Regions from separate parts of the Homo sapiens genome. Here region 1 is linked to region 2. The links come from fine-mapping of genetic effects on gene expression. Tissue or cell type: whole blood. Region 2 holds a variant in brackets; the other region holds the start of a gene. All regions are shown on one strand. Distances are between the middles of the regions.

Region 1 (2,611 bases), 35 kb after region 2:
TGTCCAAAGGCTTGCGATGATCTCAGGAAGGTCCCTGGGGTCCCAGCTGGACCCAGACAGCAATGTCCTGACTTCCCTTTGTTCTATAATCCAGGGTCCTCTGCTCTACTTCAACCCAGCACCAAGACCCAAAGGCTGCCTCTCCTTAGTGGCTCAGAGCTCTGAGCATCACATTCAAGCTGTCAGCCCAGGTCCTCCTCCTCCAGGAAGGCTTCCTCGAGGTCCTGGGAGGCAGGACCCCTTTCCTACAGCCCAAATCCCAACACTGAGGGTGCAAATGCTCCCCTGTCTGCAATAAGGCCACATCTGCGATCACCTTCCCCAGCCGGCTCTGTGACACAGACACAGAAAAGATCTACTGAGTTCCCAGACTTTCCGGGTTCCCTAGGCCATCGGGGTAATCCCCTGCTCACCCCCTTGTACCCAGATGTAAATAAATGATGCAGGTGCCCTGGGGCTCATTAGAAAATCCCAGGCCCCAGCTCAGCTATGCGGCGGCTTTTACCTCATTAGCCCACGGAACAGAAGCCCAGTTTGGGTCAAGCCATCACCCCCTAGGGTGGGGAAGAGGCTGCCCTTGGATGAGGCATGGCGCACTCTCAGTCAACGAGGTTCCTTACTCCGGACCCCCGTCCTCACCATCCCCAACCTGCCCCACTCCAGAAAGCTGCGTGTCTAATGCCCGGCTCTTTCTTTTCCATCCTTTGGAGCCCGCCTGGCATCAGGGATAACCAGCCAGGACCCTCTAACTGCCCCAGAGTTCAGTCCCGCCCAGCAGATGCCCAACGTCGGCGCTCAGAGCCGAGATAGGGATATCCTCACTGTCCCTTGGGGTCCCCCAATTTTGAGGCGAGAGGACCGGACAGGTGGAAGAGGCTGCCTCGTTCTCCCGCGCTGCCCTCGAGGTCCTCGGCGTGGACTAGCCCGCGTCGCCGTCTTACCTGCGGGGCAGAGACGGAGCCCGCCGCGGCCACCTGCTCTCGCCTGGCTGGGAACGCTGCGTGTGGGGCTGGCTGGGAGGGGCGGGGCCCGGCGGGGCAGGGGCGGGGCTGGGAGGGGGAGCCGGGCCGGCCCCTCCCTCGAGGCCCCGCCGGTGGGGTGCGCGGGCTCATTCAGGTGGGAAGTCCCGGGAGAGCATCTGAGCCACAGGGAGGGCCCGGAGCTCGAGTTCTGAAGGCTGGGAAGTTAGGACTCCAGGGGGTGCGGGGGGTGGGTGGGAATTCCCCGCTTCAGACAGCCTCGCCCAGATGCCCTGGAGAGGGTGACTTCATATAAAGACCCCTCACACGAAGAAGAAAGCTCAGAAACCTCTCCTGGCCTGAGTCCCCTTCCATCTGAGCTCTTCGGGCCTGGCAGGGTTGGGTGTGAGACGGGACACTCCTCTAAAGTAAGGGTGCCCTCTCCAGGGCTCAGCTGTGTAGGGGTTTAGGCCGCTGAGGGGGCCATTAGGCAACCAGACCATCTTTATCCTCAGCCCATCTCCCTCCCTGCCACACAGCCCCTCCTCCGCCCCCAGCGCCAGCCCAGGTCCCCCAGCTGTCACTGTTTAGCCCTGGAATGACAGGCGTCCTGACTCCGTGAGTCTAGCCACATTCAAGGCCTTTGAGCTTAGCACCCCTGAGCCCCTGCCCCCTCCCTCTGCCCCCAGTCGCTAATTTTATTGACCTGTAAAAGGCACGTTGCTGGCAGGCAGTATACTAACTGAAGGCAAAGTGGGGAGCGGATGGGCAACTCTCCCCCCGGGAAGGCAGCTGGAGATGGGACAGGAGGGAGGAGGAAGGAGACTCCTGGATCCAGGGCCAAGGACACTTTGAGAGGAGGAAGAGGGGGGCCTTGGGAAAGAGAAGTACACTGTCTATGGGAGATGGTAGCCAAAAAGACGGGAACGGGAATTTCAGCCCTCAATCAGACAAGAGGCCTACAGAAAAAAGAAAATGCTGGGAGAAGACAGGGTGCATTTCTCATCTACCTGGGGACAGAACCAAGAATGTAGCAGGAGGGAAGGAGGTTGGACGGCAGGAAGGACTGCCATCCTGCTCTCAAATCTCTGCCCTAGCCCCCTCCCTTCCTCTTGAAGGTGTCTCCTGCCTGCTGGGCCTTGTACTACAGAAATAGCCCTTTCCCTGATGAAGCAACCTAGATCTTGCCTTTCTTTTTCTTTCTTGTTAAAATGAGAACAGAAAATTTAGGCCTTTGTAATTTTCCCCACCCCCGTGCCTACCTGAGCCCACCCCTCAAACCCTGGATCTCAGCCTTTCCCCAGCCTAGGGGAGATGATCTGAGGGTTAAGGGAAGGTGGAGAGGGGAATATCGGGGTTGGAAGCTATTATGGGGTAGGGGGAGCAGGAAGCCCTCACACTCTTGATGGGCCTCAAGTTTAGACTGTTGATACCCTTTATGAATAAGGCTTAGGAGGGCTATTAAAGAGGAGTGTTTAAAACTTCTTTTATTTTTTTATTTTTGAGATGGAGTCTTACTGTGTTGTCCAGGCTGCAGTGCAGTGGCATGATCTCGGCTCACTGCAAACTCCGTCTCCCAGGTTCAAGTGAGTCTCCTGCCTCAGCCTCCTGAGTAGCTGGAATTACAGGGGCCTGCCACTATGTGAGGCTAA
Region 2 (2,752 bases):
GGGGCCTCCCCCTTGTCCCTGGGTTGGAGTGCTGTGTACCTTGCTGACCTTGGCCTTCAGAGACCACAGACCTGAGCTGGAGCCTGGGACCCCCACCCCGCAGATGAGGCCCTTGTCTGAAAGCCTGTGGCTACCAGGAGGCTCCAGGCTGGAGAAGTGCTGCTTAGGAGTCCTGATCCCAAAAGATCCCACAGGGAGAGTTCCCTAGAAACAAAGACCCAAGAGGCGGCCTAAGGACCCACAGATTCCGAGAGGTCCTACAGAAGGGTTGTCCAGATGCAGAATAAAACTTGCTGGCATCGGGGAGGCTTCAGACCCTAAGACCCCATTGAGGGCACCCCAGACGCAAAGACCCCCATGGAGGGAGGCCACAGACCCAGAGCCCCTCAGAGGGGCCCAGACAGAGATACTCCCCAAACCAAATTTGTGGGAGCAGCGTCCCCTCTACACTGACCTGGCCCTGAGGGGCTCTTCCCCAAGCTGAGCTGCCGAAGCCGCCTCTGGTGGGCCCGCCCCCCACAGTGCACCTGGGCCTGGGCCGCCGAGTTCAGCTGGATGTTGCAGACATCACAGAGCGTGTACGATGGCCGCTTTCTTTCTCGCTTGGGCTTAGGTGGTTCTGGGGGCCGAGGGAGGCACTCAGCAGCTCCAGATATGGGGGTCTCCTTCTCAGCCGGTGGGGGTGGGCTCAGTGGCCGCTTCATATCTGAGTGGATAGAGAGGGAGATGAATGAACGCCAAATGGTTGCGAATTCTTAGAGAGAGCAGGAGGGGCTCAAGACCGGGAGACACGGGGCTCTGTATCCTCTATATCCCTCTGAAATGCCCCAGCCCGAGGATGGTGGAAGGGCGCATAATGGGGTCTATTTCAAGCAAAGCAGCATTAAAACTTGGGACTCTTGGCTGTGGCTCACGCCTGTAATCCCAGCACTTTGGGAGGCCGAGGCGGGCAGGTCACCTGAGGTCAGGAGTTTGACACCAGCCTGACCAACATGGTGAAACCCTGTCTCTACTAAAAATACATAATTTGCTGGGCATGGTGGCGCATGCCTGTAATCCCAGCTACTCAGGAGGCTGATGCAGGAGAATCACTTGAACCC[G/A]GGAGGCGGAGGTTGCAGTGAGCCAAGATCGGGTGTCATTGCACTCCAGCTTCCACAACAAGAGCAAAACTCCATTTCAGAAAGAAAAAACAAACAAAAAACAAAAACAAAAACAAAAAAACTTGGGACTTTCTGGAAGGGTGTCCGACATGTCTACACACGGGGAGGCCAAGACACCTGGGGACTCGGAGGGCCGCAGAACATATCTCAGAGAGGCGGACTGGGGTCTTGGAGGAAAGGTGGTCACTGAGGGAGAGGCAGTGGCAAGGCCAGCTGAGTCACATTTGAGGAAGCGAGAGTCCTGTTCTCAGCTCTACAGCAAGCGCTGGCAATCCTGTGACAGCCAGGCATGTGGCGCTTACTGGAGACGCAGCAGCCGCCAGCCAAAAACACAACCTTCCTGTGCCCTGCACCCAGCAGGGTGACATTCACAAATGGTGACAGTGTGTGAAGCCATCCCAACCCCTGCTCCACGTGGCTCCAGATGCCCCCTGCTGTCTTGGCAACCGAGGCCGAGGCAACAGTTGGTGGTTTCGGTAGAGACCTGAGCCTTGCTGCCTGGGTCGGCTGAAGACAGCGCCCCTGCCCCCGCCCTGTCCCCCAACGCGCGCACACGCACATACACACACACACACACACACACACACACACACACACACACACACACTTTCTGTCTCTTCGGGACCCTCAAGTGGCCCCTCCAGGCCCCCATCTCCCATAGACAGTCTTTCCTTTCCAAGTCACTTCTCTGAAACTTGCCCTGCCTGACTTGTCTGCCTCTAACCATTTCTATTCTGGGGCTGCTCAGTGAATTTTGCCTTCTCTCGGAAATCTGCGTGCATGCTTCCTGCCTCTGCTTCAGACAGGGGCTTCCTGAGAGCAAGATCTGTGTCCCTCCCTCAGGCTGGGGCAACCCCAAGGCTAGGGCCTGGGTGAGTCATACTGAGCCCATCTCTCCTGTTATGGACTGAAGTGTGTCCCCTCAAAATGCATATGTTGAAGTAATAACCCCCAGTACCTTAGAAAGTAACTCTATTTGGAGATGGGGTCTTCAAAGAGGTAATTAAGTTAATGAGGTCATACCGGTGGGCCCTAATTCATATGATGGGTGTCTTTATTTTTTTCAAGATGGAGTCTCGCTGTGTCACCCAGGCTGTAGTGCATTGGTGTGATCTCGGCTCACTGCAACCTCCACCTCCTGGGTTCAAGTGATTCTCCTGCCTCAACTCAGCCTCTCAAGTAGCTGGGACTACAGGTGTCCGCCACCACGCCCAGCTAATTTTTGTATTTTTAGTAGAGACAGTGTTTTGCCATGTTGTCCAGGCTGGTCTCGACCTCCTGACCTCAGGTGATCCTCCCACCTTGGCCTCCCACAGTGCTGGGATTACAGCCATGAGCCACTGCACCCAGTGGGAGACAGAGTCTTACTCTATCACCCAGGTTGGAGTGCAGTGGCACAATCTCAGCTCACTGCAACCTCTGCCTCCCGGATTCAAGCAATTCTCCTGCCTCAGCCTCCTGAGTAGCTGGGATTACAAGCATCTGCCACCATGCCCAGCTGATTTTTGTATTTTTTTTTAGTAGAGATGGGGTAGTGCCATGTTGGCCAGGCTGGTCTCGGACTCCTGGCCTCAAGTGATCTGCTCACCTCA

What was found. PIP is the estimated chance that this variant, and not a neighbour inherited with it, causes the effect.
Region 1: it holds the start of ZNF385C, and the variant in region 2 is fine-mapped to the expression of ZNF385C in whole blood (TOPMed, PIP above 0.99).

What each region holds. Positions count from the first base shown.
Region 1 is chr17:42,097,469-42,100,079 of GRCh38, forward strand. ZNF385C (zinc finger protein 385C) reads right to left here and starts at 1,005. Exons shown (of 9, transcript NM_001392013.1): 1 at 942-1,005.
Region 2 is chr17:42,062,353-42,065,104 of GRCh38, forward strand. ZNF385C (zinc finger protein 385C) reads right to left here. Exons shown (of 9, transcript NM_001392013.1): 2 at 455-706. The coding sequence starts at 704. Among named protein-coding and RNA genes, the nearest start is that of C17orf113, 13 kb to the left of the region's middle. RefSeq lists an enhancer at 1-284 and silencers at 1,379-1,673, 1,668-1,767. The variant G/A (reference allele first, on the strand shown) is at 1,101.